Homo sapiens: one gene and its partners. The protein of the gene in region 1 purifies or fractionates together with the protein of each later gene. This does not show direct contact. Each region holds a gene or a part of one and is shown in the gene's direction. Other genes may lie near its edges.

What was found.
Region 2: the proteins of PDYN (region 1) and TIMM8B purify together in Homo sapiens (affinity purification with mass spectrometry; 3 studies listed by BioGRID and IntAct, with this or other methods). This does not show direct contact.
Region 3: the proteins of PDYN (region 1) and GNPTG purify together in Homo sapiens (affinity purification with mass spectrometry, with the first as the bait; one large-scale study listed by BioGRID). This does not show direct contact.
Region 4: the proteins of PDYN (region 1) and HARS2 purify together in Homo sapiens (affinity purification with mass spectrometry; one large-scale study listed by BioGRID and IntAct). This does not show direct contact.
Region 5: the proteins of PDYN (region 1) and GNPTAB purify together in Homo sapiens (affinity purification with mass spectrometry, with the first as the bait; one large-scale study listed by BioGRID). This does not show direct contact.

Annotation. Positions count from the first base shown.
Region 1 is NC_000020.11:1,987,243-1,991,182, reverse strand, and holds part of PDYN (proenkephalin-B preproprotein), read left to right. Parts: intron 1-3,940.
Region 2 is NC_000011.10:112,083,860-112,088,106, reverse strand, and holds TIMM8B (mitochondrial import inner membrane translocase subunit Tim8 B), read left to right. Parts: upstream 1-1,350; 5' UTR 1,351-1,383; coding exon 1,384-1,467; intron 1,468-1,796; exon of another isoform or gene 1,797-2,140; intron 2,141-2,644; coding exon 2,645-2,812; 3' UTR 2,813-3,307; downstream 3,308-4,247. Other genes in the region: SDHD (succinate dehydrogenase [ubiquinone] cytochrome b small subunit, mitochondrial isoform a precursor), read right to left, coding at 134-250, 1,148-1,199. UniProt on the Homo sapiens protein: Probable mitochondrial intermembrane chaperone that participates in the import and insertion of some multi-pass transmembrane proteins into the mitochondrial inner membrane.
Region 3 is NC_000016.10:1,357,991-1,361,930, forward strand, and holds part of GNPTG (N-acetylglucosamine-1-phosphotransferase subunit gamma precursor), read left to right. Parts: intron 1-3,752; coding exon 3,753-3,807; intron 3,808-3,881; coding exon 3,882-3,940. UniProt on the Homo sapiens protein: Non-catalytic subunit of the N-acetylglucosamine-1-phosphotransferase complex, an enzyme that catalyzes the formation of mannose 6-phosphate (M6P) markers on high mannose type oligosaccharides in the Golgi apparatus.
Region 4 is NC_000005.10:140,689,947-140,694,583, forward strand, and holds the start of HARS2 (histidine--tRNA ligase, mitochondrial isoform 1 precursor), read left to right. Parts: upstream 1-1,508; 5' UTR 1,509-1,702; coding exon 1,703-1,810; intron 1,811-1,848; exon of another isoform or gene 1,849-2,071; intron 2,072-3,544; coding exon of another isoform or gene 3,545-3,562; exon of another isoform or gene 3,563-3,644; coding exon 3,645-3,719; intron 3,720-3,988; coding exon 3,989-4,108; intron 4,109-4,238; coding exon 4,239-4,334; intron 4,335-4,637. Other genes in the region: HARS1 (histidine--tRNA ligase, cytoplasmic), read right to left, coding at 909-998, 1,269-1,358. UniProt on the Homo sapiens protein: Mitochondrial aminoacyl-tRNA synthetase that catalyzes the ATP-dependent ligation of histidine to the 3'-end of its cognate tRNA, via the formation of an aminoacyl-adenylate intermediate (His-AMP).
Region 5 is NC_000012.12:101,761,368-101,765,307, reverse strand, and holds part of GNPTAB (N-acetylglucosamine-1-phosphotransferase subunits alpha/beta precursor), read left to right. Parts: intron 1-3; coding exon 4-1,106; intron 1,107-3,544; coding exon 3,545-3,744; intron 3,745-3,940. UniProt on the Homo sapiens protein: Catalyzes the formation of mannose 6-phosphate (M6P) markers on high mannose type oligosaccharides in the Golgi apparatus.

The DNA of each region.
Region 1 (3,940 bases):
TAGGAACAAAGGGCAGACTCAGAGAGCAGCAGGAGGGAGAGAATTGGTGTTTGTGATTCACACGGTATGTCAGCATCCTGAATCAAAATCTACTCTCCCTCCCCACTTCTCTCTCTCTTATTGTGTTCACTTCCCTTCCCTTTTTTCCCTCTTCTTCCCCTCCTCCTCACCCCCTTCCCTTCTATTCCCATTTGTCCTCTCCCCATCTCTATGTCTCATCTTATTTTTTCTTCCCATATGGTCCTCCACCTCTCTCTGCTTTTTCTCGGTGTCTCGGTCTCTTTTTCTGTGTGTGCAGTTCTCACCTCTGCCATTCTTTTGGGCCCCTGTCTTTTTCTCTGTGTCTATATCTCTAACTCTCTCTTTTTACATCTCTCTCTCTATGTCTCTTCATCTCCATATCTCTCTAGCTTATCCTCTTTTTGCCTTTCTCCCCATCCCTTAATTGCACCAGATAACAAAAAGGGTGGCGGTTCCATCCAAACCTTGCTCTTGAAAAACGTTCTTTTAAATATGCAGTGAATGATCCCACCAGGACCACTGCCTGCAAGGCCGTCTTTCCCTCTGGTCTCTGCACAGCAAATGCAGCCGACCACCAAACGGGACCCTCATCCGATTCTGTGCTTTGATCTTTGCCAGGCTAAAGTGTGGGTTTACTTTCTGTTCAGAACCCGAGCCTCCTTCCCATTGATCATTCGTCTTTCGTTACGATGCTAACACCTAACAAGGGGCACCGCTTTTCCAGGTTCAGGGGCTCCCTTTGCCAACCACCTGGAGACCCACAAGGGTGAACTTTACACTTTCGAGTGTGGGGCAAAAGCTTCTGAAATGGTTTCAACGTCAGGAATGTGAGAGTTTGGGAGGTTATCCGAAAGACACTCGATACATATTTAGGCCTCAGGATGGTTTGTGGCGTGGTCAGCAGACTGACTCTGAAATCTTATTCTGCTGTTTCCTTGCTTCTTGGTCTTGGCCCAGTCTTTTAGACTCTGAGCCTCTGTTTTCCCCATCTGGAAATGGAACTAATAGTTCCCAACCCACTGGATTCTCTTCAAGAGAAGAGAGAAATAATTGAGATAAAGTGGACAGCAAAGAGCTTGTCCCTTCTCATAGCTACACCCTAAATGAGGAATGCGATGGACTTAGAGAATTCCAACTCTGCCATGCTCTGTGACCACGGAGAGGCACTTTGTCACTTGATCCTCACCTTCCCATCTGGATCCCAAGCTGTAATATTAGCCCCTGCCCCGTAGGGTCCACGGGAGGCACCTGGAGTGCACGGGGCTGGTGCAGAACAGCGTCTCAGTCCTTGCTGGCTGTTAGGATGGTTGTCATTGCAGGGTCATTGAAACAATGGCATCTCTTTAGTGGGAGTCACGGTTCAGGTGTGGGAGGCTGGAGTTCTGTCTCCATTTCCCTCGTGACTCATGATATGACCTTAAACAAGTGACTTCATTTCTACCTTTTCCCATTTCCTCTTTCATCAAATAGGGGTAATCATATGCGCTAAAGTGCTCAGAGAGATAATTGCAATGTTAAATCAAGCCATTATTATTCCATGCTGGCTTTTTAAATAAAAACGCTTGCGGCTCCTCTGAGCCCTCAGCTGACTACAATATAGAAATATCATCGAGAAGCCAAGACGTCAAAAAGATCATTCCCTTTCAAGGAACTCTGGGCCCTGGGTGAAAAGAGGGTCTACCTTGTGCTGGCCCTTTAAGCAGTGCTGTCTCAGTGCAGGAAGATGATACACCCCAATCACAGATGAGAAGACTGAGGCTTGTGGAGGAGGTGGCACCAAATGACCGCAGAGCCCATGCCTTTCCCTCTCAAGGAAAAGGTAAATCCCAAGGCAAGCCTCCCCAGGTCCTCTCAGTATTTGCCAGGAGAGCAGTCCAGGCAACTAGAAAGGGCTCAGGGCTGAAGAATGGGGCCAGTTGCTTCCTGCCTCTTCCATCAGGAAACCCACCTGACCTCCTGGCAAGAGATCCATCCACTAGCAAGGCATAAAAAATGTTTTATTATTTAAGAATATGTTCAAGTGCCTGAGGACTCAAGAAAATTAGCTTAAAAACTATTAGAATCATAAAATGTTTATAAAACCAGTCAAAGTACGGTCAGCAAACCTTGTCTGTAAAGGACCAGAGAGTAAATATTTTGGGCTTTCTTGGCCCTACAGTCTCTGTTTCAGCAATTAACTCAGCTTTTGCAGCATGAAAACAACCACAGACATAGATGCAAACAAAGGGGCATGGGTGTCGTATTAGCCAAGGTTCTCCAGGGAGGCAGAGCCAACAAGGTGTGCCTATCCGCAGAAAGAGATTGACGTAAGGAATTGGCTCATGTGATTAGGCAGGCTGGTGAGTCTGAAACAACCCCACCTGTTAGGGGAGAATCACCCCACTGCCCCATCAGCCCCTCTTTCCCCTACTGGGCTATTACAAAGCACCCGAGGTAGCAGCTGAGAAAAAGCTTCACAAACTGCCAAGTGCAAAGGACTTTTCCTTGTGTGGCCTCCGGGTCCTTGGCCAAGTCTGTGAAAGAAGACCATGCAGGCCCTCCATCAGGGTCAGATACTGACATCATGCCTCCCGCTTACCAAGGGGGCTTGCTTCCCACTTCTCATCCCGATGATCGGCAAAGTTCCTTTCCTCCTTGGCCCATCCCTAATCAGACATGATAGGCAGGCAGGGCTCTCTCTTATGTGTGACTTCCCAGCTCCATTCCTTGGCAAATCCCCATCAGAAAGGTCGAAATGCTTCCCCTGGGGCCCATCTGACATTGTTCAGTAATGTATTTATCCTATAAAAGGAAGGAAATAGGATCACCTATGAAATTGTGAGGGCCAATGTGTCTCTACTAGGGTCCCCTTTTAACCCGGAGGGATCTGGACAGGAGCCCAACTCCCCCATTCATAACTCCAGGTGAACTTGGATGAGCAAGTTCCCCTTTCTCAGCCTCAGTCTGGCCCTCTGTAAAATGGATATTAAAAGAAAAACATGCACCTCTGGGGCTGCTGTGAGGATTGGAGCTAATATGTACAAAGCAGTAATGCACAGCCTGGCACCCAGTAGGCTCCTGAGAATCGGTGGCTGTTGCTGGGTTGACAGGATCATGGATGAAGGGCATTCAGCCCAGACCAACACCCAGCAGGCCCTCCGTCCACGGCAGTGAGTCATGCAGCAGCATTTTTTGTTTCTGCAGTGTGCCAAGCTCTTTATGATCTCTCCTTTTTGCCCTCTTCTTTTCCTATCCCCTACAGCTCAAGTAAGACTAGACTGGAGTCTTCATACTCCCCTCTCCAAAGCACCTACTATGTGCCAGGTGCTTCAAGCACAAGCTAGGTGCTTCAAATGTGATCATTTATTTAGTTCCTATGTCCACCCTCTGAAGCATTATTATTAGCCCCATTTTGTAGCTGAGAAAACTGAGGCACAGTAAAGCTAAGTCATTTTCCTAAAGTGGTGGTAAGTGGTGGGCTGAGACCTGAGCCCACTTTACTGACCACTTGGTGATCCTGCTTCGGGGTCAGGAAAGAATTTGAGGTCCTACCTCTCCTTTCTCAACAGCTGTGTCCCTTCCACCCCATGCTGCTTCTCCGAGTTAGAGTGGGTAATTCAGGGGCTGCAGACTCACTTGTCTGTCAGGCAGTCGGCAGTGAGGGAAGCCCCAGGTGGTTCCGCGGGTGGCGATGGGCAGTATGGCTCTTCCTCTGTGACTGTTGCCATATTGGAATACAGGCTCAATGTCCCCAGGCCTTTTGTTTTTTCAAGACAAATTGAAAATTGAGATTTTTTTAAATGTAAAAATTGCCTAATTTTAAAATATTGCCTGTTTATTTTCATAACTAATTGGTGTGCAGCTCCTGCTCTCATTCTAGCCCTGTATGAGGTACTGGGACACCATTCATTCATTCATTCATTCATTCATTCATCAATCA
Region 2 (4,247 bases), on another chromosome or scaffold:
AACTAGGTCTTCATTTGACAAAGTTGGACACAAGAGTCCCCCCTACAGGTAGGAAGTCCTGCTAAAGGCATGACCATTAGTGAAGGTAAAGATGGCTAGAGCCCAGAAAGCAGCAGCGATGGAGAGAACATACAATGGTGGCTCGGTGACAAGTGTATGTGCTGCACTCCACACCATTCTGGGATAGGTCGGTCCTGAAGAAATGCTGAGATATGAGCAGGTCTGACCACTGGAGTTCGAAGCAACAGAGCTGAGGAAAGAGTCATTAGGATGATCATAAGAACCTCTCCTTTAACAGGACTGACAAACTTTCTAAATGACCATAGGTAAGCTACTTAACAATAAATAGGGGATAACATCTTATTTGTAAAATGAAGATAGCATCTATTTCACTGGGGTTACTGTGAAGTTAAGACCAGGGAACATCTGCATGTTCCCTACTTTATTTAATGACACCTCAGGCATTCTTTAACCTAACTCAGTAATCTGGAAATCATGAGAGACTTTTCCCCTAAATTCAATCGCCAAATCCTATTGGCGTATCTCTTTAACAGTTCTTGAGACAATCTTCTTTTCTTTGTGCTACTTTCCTAGTTCAGGACCTCATCTTGCCCGGACTACTATGACAGTGTTTTCCTCATCAGAATGAAAGCTCGTTGAGGGCGGGAACTACGTTTTCTTCACATTTGTATCCTAGCATTACTACAGTACCTGAGGTAACACAAATGCCCAGGTTAAATGATTTTCGAACTGATCCCCCCTCCACTCCCACATCCAAACACACCAACTCCAGAAGAAATGGGCAAGCTCCTAACCCTCTTTCCCGACTCAGGGTGGGAGCGAGTGGGGAGCATTCTAGGGACAGTGAACGGGGAGAAAACAGAACTGCTATGTGGATTAGCCTCATCAGGACTGCGACTTCCAGAGGGAGCTCTCTTTCTGATTATTCCCTCAACTCGTCAGCTCACAGCAAGTGAAATATACCTTCGGGTAAACATCTGGACCCCTAGACTACAGTGGTCATTGCTGTGATTTCGGTATTTTCTTCTCCTCAAGAGATCTCCCACCCGGCAGATGAGTCCTCACTTCCATCCCCTTCCCTGGCTGGAGGCTACGCTAAGCACCTCAGGGTGGGAAGACCCCTCACCTCGGCCTCCTAGGGCACCGCAAACGGCACTCAGCCTCCAGAGAACCGCCATCTCGTTCCTGAGGGCTCAAGGTCATCCACCAACCCGGAACCACTTAGGCGACAATTCCCACCCACGACGACGAAAGAAAACAGGGAAGAGGAAATGCTGGGTGAACCGGAAGTCGAGAGGCGGTGCACACCCGTCGCGCATGCGCAAACACAGCTGTCGGAAGGTGGCGAGCCTGAGGCGAACAATGGCGGAGCTGGGCGAAGCCGATGAAGCGGAGTTGCAGCGCCTGGTGGCCGCCGAGCAGCAGAAGGCGCAGTTTACTGCACAGGTGCGGGGACGGGGAGGGTGAAGGGAAAGGAAGTTTCACCTTCCTTGGTGGTCCTGGGCACGCTCGGAGGTCTGTACACTGGCGGCTCACTGGTGCTCGATCCCGGCTGCATCCCATTCCCCTCACGAAAGACAAAGTTATGGCTCTCCTGTCCCTGGTGACCGGTAGTGCTCAGGTGCCAGGTATATAAGCGTAGCGTGGAGAAAAGAAAAGGTGTAAAACAGGGAAGATTTGGGCGACGCAAGGGTACGGGAGACTAGTTAGCCGGCGACATGACTGGGCTGGCATTCGAAAGATCTGGGTTCTCATCCTCCCTCTGCTCCTTGCAGGCCACGTGCCCGTAGAAAAGATACTCATCCACTGTGGGTTTTGGTGTCGCCGTCACCCCACTGCCTCACTGGATTGTGAGGATCATATGCGACAATGTATTTGAAAACGACTAGAACATTATCGGAGGAAGGTGGACTCTGAAGTAGTCGCTGTAGACTATGGATGTAGAACAAGGGTTTGGAGCCCTTCGGACATGGTTCTAACGCGGCCTGACTTCTTGCTGGCTACATGACCTTGGACTACATAATCACGCCTCTTAAATGGGAGGTGATGACAGCTATCCTTGAGGACCTTAGAGAGAACTGATTTCTTAGTACCCAGCCTCACAAATAGTAAGCTCTTGGTAAAATGGTTTTTTCCTTTTGGGTGGGAGGAAGAGGGTGCTCGGATGACCAGCAAGAACCCTGGCTAGAAATCTTTGGGCCCTGAACATTCTAATGACAGTGCACATAATTTCTGTGCCTGTATGTGCATTTTTCTGGGGAGTGGATCCATAACCCCCAAAAGGTTAATGGAAGAATTACCTTGTCTAGGGGATAGGTTTGGAATAAAATGAGTGCAATAGTTTGGGAAAATTAATTGGTTCCCTAGTTGGTTCACAATGGTGCTAGCTACTTTGGGGAATATAAAAGGTTATTAGTCCTACCTGAGAATGTACAATCTGTAGGGACGAGGATCTGGATCAATATTGGTGACTAATTAGGAAATGAAGAAAGAGAAGAGCCCAAAGTGACTCCGTGGTTGATTTAAAGAATGGTTTTGTCAGGTGTCAAAAAGTGAGAAGTTAATAAACAAGAGTTAGGCCTATCTGCAGACCCCAATGGTTACTATTTTTCTTTCCTTTTAGGTGCATCACTTCATGGAGTTATGTTGGGATAAATGTGTGGAGAAGCCAGGGAATCGCCTAGACTCTCGCACTGAAAATTGTCTCTCCAGCTGTGTAGACCGCTTCATTGACACCACTCTTGCCATCACCAGTCGGTTTGCCCAGATTGTACAGAAAGGAGGGCAGTAGGCCATCCCCCAGGAGAATGACAGAAGCAAAGGACTTGTTACTAAGCAGATTTAAGGGTCAGTGGGGGAAGGCTATCAACCCATTGTCAGATCAGCATCAGGCTGTTATCAAGTCTGTTGGTGCTAAAAAGTAAAAGATGAAATGTTCAAAGAGTGAAATTTATTTATTTGGAATTCAGAAATTCCAGGTTGTATGACATCAGTTACTCAATAAGTGTGAATTCTCCAACTCTTCTTTTAATCCCATTTTAGAATTTAATATAGAGATCTCTGATTGGCAGGAACACTAGAAATAAATGTTCCATGGCCAGTAGTGCAAATGGGGGATTGTAGGTTTTGAAAAACCACCCTAAGCCATATTAAGGGGGTTGGAAGAACCATCGAAGCCTAAGGCATAGAAGAAAATTTGGGGTTAAGAAAGATGAAGAACAAAAAACAGCTTTATTGCTTATACATGACCAAGAAAAGGAAAACATGGCAAAAAAAAAAAAAAAAAGGCAAGATGTGTATTCCTTGCGAAAGAACAAGCCTGCTAACTTGGGAGGAAGGGAAGGTCAGGACCCAAATAGAGCCAATTTCCTGGAGATGGCCTGTTCTACTGGCACATTTTCCTGAGTCTGTGCTTAAAACCTTTCAGGTACTTTCAGGGCACAGAAACAATGCATGCTAAAAAATATATGGCCAAAGCTCCTTCCAACAAAGATTTAACTTGCTCCAGGAACAAAATAATTGCTTTAGGTTAAGAGGTAGTAATTAGAGACTATTCTTCTCCCTTTAGACCCCCACTAATCCCAAAAATAAAAATACACACCATGGAACACTGACAATTGAGTACCAAAGTATTAAAATTTAAAATAAATATCCCAAAAGGTAGCACCTGCTCATAGTTAAGGGATAGGGCACCTCTGTCCAACCATGTATTTTAAGACCAAGCACTTTATTAGAAATCTGTCCCGTAAAGAGAACAAATTTAGCAGTTAGAACTAAAAATACCAACTCATGGAATGTCATCATAGTTGTATCTACTGCTGGTGTCTTATACTGTCATGCTACTGTGAAGTAATTCCGTATTACACATCAGGAAAGTAAGGCCAGGAAGGTGAACTTACCTGCTCTGGGCCTCCTCATAACCAATGAGTGGCAGAACCAAGACCGAAAGTCTGAGTTTTCAAGCTTTTTACTCAGCCCATTAAGTGACAACCAGGAAAAAATAATACGTCACTTGATCTTTCTTCCCACAGTGAAAAAATGCACTTGCGTTCTGCCAGCCTTCTTTCAGTGATATGTTGGTTTCTTAAGAATTAACATACTAAGGATCACAGTATAGCAAAGGGAATTAATGTGGTCTCTGCTTGGTGCTTTAATCCAAAGGCAGACTGGGAAGAAGTGGATATGTCCCTGAGAAGCCTGTTTCATTTTGGAAATAATTCAACTTA
Region 3 (3,940 bases), on another chromosome or scaffold:
TGGCCCGTGGCTGACAGTCTCGGTGGGCGCTGTGTTAAGGTGGCGTCCCCAGCCAGGTCCCGACTCCCCAGCTTAAAGAACAGGGTGGCTGCTGTGGCTTGACTCACGAGTTGCCACTGGCCTTGATGTGTACACGCCCTTGCTCTAGCACTGCCTGGGGCTGGCCTGGCTGGAGGGTAGGGACGCTGCACGCCTTCCCTCTTCCCCCAGGCGCTGGTGACACTGCCCTGCAACCGTCAGCACCATCATCTCCACAACTTGCTCTGTCCCCTTCAAACCCTGACTCCCAGCTGCCCCGCTCCCCCAGCCCCGGCACCCACCATTCTGCTGTCTCTGAACTTGGCTATTCATAGACGTCACATAGGTGACTCATAACTGTGTGCGACCTTTTGTGTCTGACCAACTCCTCTTGGCACAGTGTCCCCAAGGTCCCCCAGGCTGGAGGCTCTCAGTGCTTCCTTTTTATATGGCTGAGGACTGTTCCACTGCAAGGACAGACCACGTTGTTGTTTACCCGTCATCTGTCCATGGACACTGGAGTGGCTTCCACCCTCTGCCTGGGAATAGGCTGCTGTGAACTTGGGTGTAAATATTTGAGTCTCTGCTTCCAATTTCTGAGAGTAGCTTTGCTGGATCTTATTAGAATTCCATGTTTAGCTTTTTGAGGAACCACCAAACTGTTTGCATAGTGGCTGCACCGTTTCCCATTCCAGCCAGCATTGCACGAGGGGTCCAGTTTCTCCACATTTTCACCAACACTGTTTTTTGCTAACAGCCATCCTAGTGGGTGTGAAGCGGTACCTTAGGGTTGTTTTAATTTGCATTTCCCTAATGATCAGTCATGTGGGATCTTTTCAGTTGCTTATGGTGTTTGTCCTTTTTTTTTTTTGAGATGGAGTCTCACTCTGTGGCCCAGACTGGAGTACAGTGGCGCCATCTTGGCTCACTGCAAGCTCTGCCTCCCAGGCTCAGGCGATTCTCCTGCCTCAGCCTCTCAAGTAGCTGGGATTACAGGCGTGAGCCACCACACCTGGCTCATTTTTATTTAGTAGAGACGGGGTTTCACCATGTTGGCCAGGCTGGTCTCAAACTCCTGACCTCATGATCCGCCTGCCTCGGCCTCCCGAAGTGCTGGGATTCCCGGCTTCTCTGCCCATTTTTAACTTGAGTTTATTGTTGGGCTGTAGTTCTGTGTTCTGGATGTGAGTCTCTTACATACGTGGTTTGCCAGTGTTTATTTTCTCCCATTCTGTGGGTTGTCTTTTCACTCCCTTGATGGGTTTGTTTTTTTTTCCATATAGAGTCTAACTCTGTAGCCCAGGCTGGAGTGCAGTAGCACGATCTTGGCTCACGGCAACCTCTCCACCTCCCAGGCTCAAGGAATTCTCCTGCCTCAGCCTCCCGAGTAGCTGGGACTGCAGGCATCCGCCATCACGCCTGGCTAATTTTTTTGTACTTTATTAGAGATCAGGTTTCACCATGTTGGCCAGGATGGTCTCGATCTCCTGACTTCGTGATCCGTCTGCCTCGGCCTCCCAAAGCACTGGGATTACAGGCGTGAGACCCTGCGCCCGGCCTCTATGCCAGTCTTTATGCCAGTATCACACTGTTTTGATCATAACAGCTTTGAAGTAATTTTTGGAATCAGTATGTACGAGTCTCTCAACTCTGTCTTTAAGATTTGTTCGATGATTTGGGGTCCTCTGAGACTCCCTATGAACTTTAGGATGTGTTTTTCTATTTCTGCAAAAACTGTCATTGGGGTTTTGATGGGGTTGCATTGAATCTGCAGATCACTCTGGGTGGTATTGTCATCTTAAAAATATTGAATCCATCAGGCTGGGCGCTGGGGCTCACGCCTGTAATCCCAGTACTTTAGGAGGCTGAGGCAGGTGGATCACCTGAGGTCAGGAGTTTGAGACCATCCTGGCCAACATGGAGAAACCCCGTCTCTACAAAAATACAAAAATTAGCCAGCCGTGATGGCAGGCACCGGTAATCCTAGCTACTGGGGAGACTGAGGCGGGAAAATCGGTTGAACCCAGTGGTGGAGATTGTAGTGAGCCAAGATCGTGCCACTGCAATCCAGCCTGGCGACAATGCTAGACTCCGTCTCAAAAAAAAAAAAGTGGCGTATGGATGTCTCATGTCAGCTTTATGTAGTGGGTGGCACTGTTTGTGCGTGGATAATTGTGGTGTCTTGGCACATTGACCCTTTTATCAATGTATAACATCTTTGTCTCTTAAAATAGTTTCAGCCACTTCAGCTCTCTTTTGCCTGTTTATATGAATACTTTTCCATACCTTCACTTTCAACCTGTTTATGTCTTTAAATCTGAAGTTAGTCTTTCAGGCCGGGCATAGTGGCTCACACCTGTAATCCCAGCACTTGGGAGGCCAAGGTGGACGGATCACTTCAGGTCCACAGTTGCAGACCAGCCTGGCCAACACAGTGAAACCCCGCCTCTGCTGAAGATACAAAAATTAGCTGGGCGTGGTGGCGGGCACGTGGGATCCCAGCTACTCGGGAGGCTGAGGCAGGGGAATCACTTGAACCCAGGAGGCGGAGGTTGCAGTGAGCCGAGATCGCGCCACTGCATTTCACCTTGGGTGACAGAGTGAGACTGTCTCCAAAAGAAAAAAAAGAATCTAATGCCTGATGAGCTGAGGTGGAACAGTTTCATCCCCAAACCACCCATCCCCACCCCCGGCTGGTAGAAAAACTGCCTTCCATGAAACCAGTCCCTGGTGCCAAAAAGATTGGGGACCACTGGTTTAAGTCCTGTAGCTTTACAGACCATAGCTAGAAAGGCAACTGGTATTAATTCACCCTGCACGAGGACCTCCGTCTGCCTCCGCTGAGCTGCTGTCTGCTCACTTCCCCGGGTGGCACACCGGCCTGCATGTAACCAACTCCTGAAGCTTTTATCTGGGAATGTCCTCTTTTTTGGGGGGTGGGGAAGACAGGGTCTTGCTCTGTCACGCAGGCTGGAGTGCAGTGGTACGATCTCAGCTCACTGCACTCTCCACCTCCTGGGTTCAAGAGATTCTCCTGCCTCAGCCTCCTGAGTAGCTGGGATTACAGGTGCGCGCCACTACACTCAGCTCATTTTTTCTGTGTGCTTTTTGTGTAGACACGGGGTTCTCACAGTGTTGCCCAGGCTGGTGTCATACTCCTGGCCTCAAGCAATCTTCCCGCCTTGGCCTCCCAAAGTGCTGGGATTACAGGCATGAGCCACGATAGCAAGCCTTAACTCTAATTTTTGAAGGGCTATTTTTAGAATTCTCGGTTTTGTCAGTTTCTTCCATTGAATGGTACCTGTTTTCCTGTTTCTTTGAACGTCTTGTGCTTTTTGTTGAAAACTGGTCCTTGGCCGGGCGCGGTGGCTCAAACCTGTAATCCCAGCACTTTGGGAGGCCGAGGTGGGTGGATCACGAGGTCAGGAGATCGAGACCATCCTGGCTAACGCGGTGAAACCCCGTCTCTACTAAAAATACAAAAAATTAGCCGGGCATGGTGGCGGGCGCCTGTAGTCCCAGCTACTTGGGAGGCTGAGGCAGGAGAATGGCGTGAACATGGGAGGCGGAGCTTGAAGTGAGCCAAGATCATGCCACTGCACTCCAGCCTGGGTGACAGAGTGAGACTCCATCTCAAAAAAAAAGAAAACTGGTCCTTTGAAAACAGACTCTGCCAGTCTTTGCAGACAGGTTCTGTGCTTGGACCCTGGGGATCAGTGTGAGGTCTCTTCCAGGACCCGTGCATCTCTTCCGACTCTCGGGCAAGTGCTTCAGCCTGGTGGAGTCCACGTGAGTGCAGGGTGGGTGCGAGGGTGGGCTGGGGCGCAGCCTGCGGACCCCCCTCATGCCATCTGTGTCCCCAGGTACAAGTATGAGTTCTGCCCGTTCCACAACGTGACCCAGCACGAGCAGACCTTCCGCT
Region 4 (4,637 bases), on another chromosome or scaffold:
CTACCAAAGTTCTTTCCCACTTTAGGGTTTCCATACTCTACCTGGACCTATCTTTGTCACACTTGTCCTCTGGCTATCTCCTACTCATTCATTAGATCAGTTAGTATATCACTTCCTCAGTTAGCCTTTCTCAGACTCCCCAGTTCTCCCTTATTTTTCTCAGAGCAACCTTAATTTCTTTATATCATTTTTCACAATATGTAATTACATAACCACATGTGGTGGCCGGGTGCGGTGGCACACGTCTGTAATCCCAGCACTTTGGGAGACTGAGGCGGGCAGATCACTTGAGGTCAGAAGTTCAAGACCATCCTGGCCAATATGGTGAAACCCCGTCTCTACTAAAAATACAAAAATTAGCTGGGCATGGTGGTGGGCACCTGTAGTCCCAGCTACTCAGGAGGCTGAAGCAGGAGAATCGCTTGAACCCAGGAGGCAGCGGCTGCAGTGAGCCAAGATGTGCCACTGCACTCCAGCCTGTGCAACAGAGGATACTCTGTTTAAAAAAAAAACAAAAAAATCTGTGTGGGATTATTTGTTCTAAGTCTCTCTCCTTCAGTAGAATGTAAGCTCCATGAGGGTAGGCTATATTGTCCACCATGGTATATATTCAGTGCTTTGTATAGTGCTAGAGACATAGCGCTAAATACACATTTATTGAATGAACGAAGGAGTAGCAGCAGCAGGCTGACTCCCCTGATCACCCAGCTGGCCTAGTTTCTGCCATCACTTTGCCATCCCAGAATGACTCAGGTAGAGTCCAGTCCAGCCCAGCGCCCAGAGCGACTGTCCTCTCCTCTGCAGCATTTCAGATCCTCCTCAATGACCTGGTTTAGGGAGGCAGACATAAGCGCCCCGTGAGTAGAGTTAGAGACTTTCTCAGTGGCTCCCTACAGGAATGATATTACCTTGGGGGTTTTGAGCACAAATTTCTGTTTGCTTTCATCAGGACCCAGCTGTGCCTTCAGTTTCAGGAGTTTCGCCACCTCCTCCTCGATCTGTGGAGGGAAAGAAGGCGCTGAGCTATCCATCTGTCACTCTCCTCCCTCCCCCGCCATTCATTCAATATTCCTCCCTCATCACATCTCTCTGCTCAGGCCTAGCTTTGTTTCTCTCGGGACCCACCCCGGATGTCTCCCCACGCAGCCCACTCTCCTCCCTACAAGACTGGTCGCTTCCCTCACATCTCTACCCTATGTCCCGAACACCCTGGCTTTACGTCCTCCCAGGCTTTGCCTTGGCCCTCTCCCCTGCTGCCTAAATCTCACCAGCTCGGCGCTGGCCTTCTGCTGCTTGAGGCCTCGCACGCGCTCTCCCTGAAGTTTCACCAGCTCCTCCAGCGCCGCACGCTCTGCCATCCCGGCTGTCCACTTGAGCCGCCTGCTGTCTCGACCTGCGGTGGTTGCCCCAGCCTCAGCAAGGATGACTTCCGGCTATCGAGTCGCTGGGTCGCACGCCTAGAGAGCCTCCGCCGAGCACAAAAATTATTTCCGGCTCCTCCCGGAAGTGCCGAAGCTGGCTACTAAGGGAACTTGGGAGGATCCCACCTCAGCCTTCGTGACTAGTGAGGTGCGCAAACGCCCGAGTTTTCCCTGGTGCGCGGGTTCCGCCTTTGCAGTGCCCTCCACCCTTCCTGGTGTCTGACCCGCCTCCTTCCCAGGCCTTTTGTTCCTGTCCCGGAAAGCCGGCGTCCTGCCGCGCGATGCCCCTGCTCGGACTTCTTCCCAGGAGGGCCTGGGCTTCGCTGCTCAGCCAGCTCCTGCGACCGCCCTGCGCTTCGTGCACCGGGGCGGTCCGTTGCCAAAGCCAGGTGAGCGAGACAGAATTATCTCTGGTCTGTCCCAGCAGGGTCTCCAGATCTGAACGCATAGCCTCGCGGCCTGTATTCCAGTAGTGTTACAATCGGTTTTTATCGAGTGCCCACTATGTACTGACACTGAACTAAGCGATTTGGATGCCTGGTCATTTAATCCTTGGAGCAATCTTGAGAGGTTGGAGTTTTGATTTCCATTCTGCAGTTGAGGAAACGGAGGCTGCAAGATTAAATGAATGACTTATACACGGATATGTAGTAAGGGAGTATTTTAATTCATATCCACACTTTTTCCTGAAACTCTTGGACTCAAACAGTAACATTTTTAAGCGAAATATATGAATATTCCTAGTAAATGAGATGACTAAAGATCAGAAGTAGACTGAGTTCATCTTAGAATTTACCTCAAAATGAATCTCAGAAAAACATTTTCAGATGTCAGAGAGTTTTGGATTTTGGAATTGCAGATAAGGGATTGTGTACTTGAACTTGGACTTCTCTTAGGGCAGATAATCGCCATAGTATGGAACCACCACATCCTCTATTTTTGGAAGGGCATACAGCGTGCTGGTAATGTCACTGATTAAGTTTTGCCTTACTTCGGAAAGATTCTAATGCTCTCTTAGCAGATGCTTTGTGCTATCGTGAACAATAGGGCACAGATCTTTTATTGATATTCAATCACAGCATCTTATCAGTCTGAGTTTTTTAGCTCATTCAAGAAATCCATATCTTATCATTCCACAGGCTTGTTCTGTGTCCTTGAGCTGGTTCCCTTGTCTTCAAGTTACAGTTTTCCTCTCTCTAAACCTGATAACCAGTGCTACCTTATTAAAAATTATTATTTTTTTGTCCGGGCACAGTGGCTCATGCCTGTAATCCCATCACTTTGGGAGGCCAAGGGGGGTGGATCACCTGAGGTCAGGAGTTTGAGACCAGCCTGACCTGTATGGCGAAACCCCGTATCTACTAAAAATACAAAAATTAGCCGGGCGTGGTGGCATGTGCCTGTAATCCCAGCTACTCGGGAGGCAGAGACAGGAGAATCGCTTGAACCCGGGAGGCGGAGGTTGCAGGAGCTGAGATCGTGCCACTGCACTCCAGCCTGGGCGACAGAGTAAGACTCTATCTGAAAAAAAAAAAAAAATTATTTTTGCTCTTTCAGTAGGAACGGTGACCTGGAGAAGATCACCATAATCCCTACCCCTGAATGGTTGGTGTTGGTAGTGGTGGGTTGTTCAGTGCCTTCATTATTCTCAGATTCTTAAAGTATTTGAGAATATTAAAAATGCGGCTGAGCTCGGTGGCTCATGTCTGTAATCCCAGCACTTTGGGAGGCTGAAGCGGTTGGATCACGAGGTCAGGAGTTCAAGAGCAGCCTGGCCAACATGGTGAAACCCCATCTCTACTAAAAATACAAAAATTAGCTGGGCGTGGTGGTGGCGCGCCTGTAGTCCCAGCTACTCGGGAGGCTAAGGCAGGAGAATTGCTTGAACCAGGAGGCAGAGATTGCAGTGAGCCGTGATTGTGCCACTGTACTCCAGCCTGGGCAACAGACCGAGACTCTGTCTCAAAAAAAAAAAAAAAAATCCATATACAGTGAGGAAGCTTGTGTGGTGAAGACCTGACCTCATATATATTACACGTGTAATTGTAAATACAACATAGATTCTTTGGGGTGGGACTGAGATTGGGATAGATGAAATGGTGCTTTGGCTTCCTGTTGCTCAGGGTGAAGAGTCTTTGCAGGTTGGTGGTCAACAGGGTCAGAGATGCCACAGGTCTGGCCAGTGTCCAGAGAAGCCACATCTCACATTCATTCTTCTGCCAGGTTGCAGAGGCAGTGTTAACATCCCAACTGAAAGCACATCAAGAGAAACCAAATTTTATTATCAAGACCCCAAAGGTAATACTTTTTGCCTACCCTATCCCATTAGAGTGCCTTGGAGGACTGACCTCTGCCTTGCATGTCTCTCTGACCCCTTTTAATGTTCTTTACAGTAAATTTTAAAAATATATACTATTCTTGAGATACTAGGTGCGGCTCAGAGTCATTTGAACTCAGTAGATTTCAGCTCCAGACCTGAGATTACATAATAAGTGTAGTTTAACTCCTTGTCTGAAATGGACTTATTTTTTGTTTTTGTTTTCACTATGGCTGCTTTTGGTTTCCAGGGTACCAGGGATCTTAGTCCTCAGCATATGGTTGTGAGGGAGAAAATTCTTGATTTGGTTATCAGCTGCTTTAAACGTCATGGAGCAAAGGGGATGGACACCCCAGCATTTGAGCTGAAGGTAAGGGGAGAAGAAAGAGTACGTGCAACCTCACTCACTTCTTCAATGGCGTTCAGTGTCCCAAAGGGCTTCTCATCTGTGTTTTGGAGTCATGCTTTCAACTGTGGCTCATTCTGTTTGACCCCTATAGGAAACCCTGACTGAGAAGTATGGAGAGGACTCTGGGCTCATGTATGATCTGAAGGATCAAGGTGGAGAGCTGTTGTCCCTCCGCTATGACCTTACTGTATCCTTTTGAGTACTGGAGCCTGACCTGTCTCTTTCCAAATCCAGCGGGCTTTCTCTGACAAAAGTGGAGAACGTGACTTTGGGATCTTAGAGGTCCATTGCCTATACTTCTAGTTTCTCCCAGAAGGCAGTTCTGCTACGGAAGCCTGGCCTGGAGCCCTGTCATTTAACTCTAGTGTGTATCATAATCCTTTGGGGGAGCTTGCAGAAGCACAGACATTTGGCTGCAGTCCCAGAGATTCTTAGCTAATTCTGTAGCTGGAATGGGGCTCAATAATTTGTATTAAAAAATTGTTTTTTT
Region 5 (3,940 bases), on another chromosome or scaffold:
TAGATCATTTTCATGAATTGTATAAAGTGATCCTTCTCCCAAACCAGACTCACTATATTATTCCAAAAGGTGAATGCCTGCCTTATTTCAGCTTTGCAGAAGTAGCCAAAAGAGGAGTTGAAGGTGCCTATAGTGACAATCCAATAATTCGACATGCTTCTATTGCCAACAAGTGGAAAACCATCCACCTCATAATGCACAGTGGAATGAATGCCACCACAATACATTTTAATCTCACGTTTCAAAATACAAACGATGAAGAGTTCAAAATGCAGATAACAGTGGAGGTGGACACAAGGGAGGGACCAAAACTGAATTCTACAGCCCAGAAGGGTTACGAAAATTTAGTTAGTCCCATAACACTTCTTCCAGAGGCGGAAATCCTTTTTGAGGATATTCCCAAAGAAAAACGCTTCCCGAAGTTTAAGAGACATGATGTTAACTCAACAAGGAGAGCCCAGGAAGAGGTGAAAATTCCCCTGGTAAATATTTCACTCCTTCCAAAAGACGCCCAGTTGAGTCTCAATACCTTGGATTTGCAACTGGAACATGGAGACATCACTTTGAAAGGATACAATTTGTCCAAGTCAGCCTTGCTGAGATCATTTCTGATGAACTCACAGCATGCTAAAATAAAAAATCAAGCTATAATAACAGATGAAACAAATGACAGTTTGGTGGCTCCACAGGAAAAACAGGTTCATAAAAGCATCTTGCCAAACAGCTTAGGAGTGTCTGAAAGATTGCAGAGGTTGACTTTTCCTGCAGTGAGTGTAAAAGTGAATGGTCATGACCAGGGTCAGAATCCACCCCTGGACTTGGAGACCACAGCAAGATTTAGAGTGGAAACTCACACCCAAAAAACCATAGGCGGAAATGTGACAAAAGAAAAGCCCCCATCTCTGATTGTTCCACTGGAAAGCCAGATGACAAAAGAAAAGAAAATCACAGGGAAAGAAAAAGAGAACAGTAGAATGGAGGAAAATGCTGAAAATCACATAGGCGTTACTGAAGTGTTACTTGGAAGAAAGCTGCAGCATTACACAGATAGTTACTTGGGCTTTTTGCCATGGGAGAAAAAAAAGTATTTCCAAGATCTTCTCGACGTAAGTAACATCCAGCCTCATTCTTTCTCATGCTCAGGAAGAGTAAATAATCTCATGATAATATCATTATAGCTACCATTTATTCAGCACTTCCCTGTGCCGGCCATGGAACTAAATGCTTTTCTTACATGGTTTCATTTAATTTACCCAATAACCCTAATAATAAAAAATGTCATATGAAGGTATTTATTATTGCTGTCCCCATTTTGTAGTTTAGGAAACAGCCCAAGTGTGAATGAGTAAGGGATTTAGCCAGGGGCGTACTTGGAGGAAGGAGAGTGGGAAGTGGCATGTTGTCTTGTCTTGACATTTCAGATATGGTATTTTTCCAGCTTTACTGATGAAAAACCCTGAAGTTCAATTAAGTTCATTCGCTTCCCCAACATTATAACAGCAAATCAGTGTGAGCCAAGCCTCAAAGTTGGACTGCTCGTTGCCCTGTACCATGGCTTCACTGTGCTGTGGTGTCATCTGTACCTCTCCTCAGTGCTCTCACGGTGCTAACCACTGGGGAATGCAAGATGACGGGAACATAGCCACTGCTCATGTGGAAACTCAGGGACCAGTAGAGAAGACAAATTTGTGGGGAGAAAACTGTAGCAAAGAGATGTGTCTGTGTTGAGATATGGGCAAGAAGTTCAGAGGGAGGACTCCTTAGCTCTGCCTAGAAGTACTAGGGAAGGCATACAGAAGGAAGTGCCCTGTGGACTGACCTTCGAAGGGGTGGGAGTTGACAGACCAAAAAAAAAAATCATACAGTCTGGGCTGAATAGTGAAGGCACACAGCCACGAGTGGGTGTTAGGCTGGGAGAAAAGAGAGTGAAGGAGGAACTATGTCCTCAGCATTTTAGGAAGTATCTTGTGCCTTGCACATGAGGCATTTACAGATTGTCTAGTGAAGGACTGCAGTGTTCTTGACTATGTTTATTTCCTCAGTTTCCCCCATTTTCTTTCCTTTCCTTTCTTTTTTTTTTTTTTTTGAGATGGAGTTTCGCTCTTTTTCCCAAGCTGGAGTGCAATGGCGTGATCTCGGCTCACTGCAGTCTTTGCCTCCCAGGTTCAAGAGATTCTCCTGTCTCAGCCTCCTGAGTGGCTGGGATTACAGGCATGTGCCAGCATGCCTGGCCAATTTTTTGTATTTTTAGTGGAGACGGGGTTTCACCATGTTAGCCAGGCTGGTCTCGAACTCCTGACTTAAGGTGATCCGCCCGCCTCGGCCTCCCAAAGTGCTGGGATTACAGGCGTGAGCCACTGTGCCTGGCCTCTGGCCTCTTTCCTTTTTTTTTTTTTTTTTTTTTAAATTTACAAAAGCATTATAGGCTAGTAGTAAAAATTGCAAACAATTCAAAAATATACAGTAAATAAAGGAAAGTTCTTCCTTCTTCAGTCTCCTTCCCGGAGATAATTGCTGTTAATAGTTTGATGGGTATTCTTCCAGTATTTTTCTATAGCTATGCAAACATACCTATATGTATGTATAGTTATATATAGAGAAATATATGTATAGTGTAAATTTACATATATTTCCCTGCAGTTGCCTTTTGATGTAGTAGGATGTGGGCAAATGCCATTATTTATTTATTTATTTATACCCATGCCAGTGCCATTATTCTTTTTAATGGCTGCAGGTTAGTTATTTCCAATGTTTTGTGATTACAAATAGTGTTGCAGTGAATTCTCTTGTACATATATCTTACATTTCAGTGAGTTTTAGTTCTGCAGGTAGAATTACTAGCTTAGCAGGTATAAACTTTAAATATGTCTTTCTGAAATGTTGCACCACTTCATATTTCCACAAACAGTATACAACAGTGCTTGTTTCACTGCAGTCTAACCAACACCAGTTAATATCAGTCTCCTTACATTTTTATTTTTATCAGTTTGAGAAGCAAAAATATTTCTGTAAAGTGTTTGAATGCTTTGCCAATTTTCTTTGCCTATTTAGTTCTGCCACTGACTGGTTTTGATTTTATAATATTAAAACTATTATAAGATGAAACCAAATTTGTTTCTAGTCCTTGCGCTTAAAACTCAAGGACTTGCACATTTGATATCACCTGCAGAAATAGCTTGATATTGAAAGTACTATCAAATGTATATGTACATAAATTTTCTAAATGTTGCATTGAATTAGCTTTGACATCTCACAGTCAGTGACCAGTCCTTGAAGAATACCCTCCATATGTGACTGTTGTTATGTAGATCTCCATCGTACAGCTGTTGTTCTCAAACCAACATTGGTGATACTTGCACTGAAATCCAGTTGAGTCCTGCTAAGTCCAGTTTAGATCCTTAAAGTGACCCGTTAACATGTATTTCATTTGCTCCTAATGAAGAGTTCGTGACTAGTTATTACCACATTATATAAAATGTCTTGTAACAAAGTACACTTGTGCACTAAACATAATGCTGAGTTACATGTAGAATTCTCTTTTCAGGAAGAAGAGTCATTGAAGACACAATTGGCATACTTCACTGATAGCAAAAATACTGGGAGGCAACTAAAAGATACATTTGCAGATTCCCTCAGATATGTAAATAAAATTCTAAATAGCAAGTTTGGATTCACATCGCGGAAAGTCCCTGCTCACATGCCTCACATGATTGACCGGATTGTTATGCAAGAACTGCAAGATATGTAAGTCTTGCTCGTGTTTGAGTTGTTTGCTTGTGTTCAGAACTAAGGCTACTTGAAATGTGCATATTTACCATGCTAAATTTATAGCTCTAATATTTGATGACTAATATGTTAAAGGTATTATCTAAGTGAGAAAGAAAAAAGTCCATCTCTGCAAATGTTAGATACGGTACATACTTTGAATATCCAGAGTTTG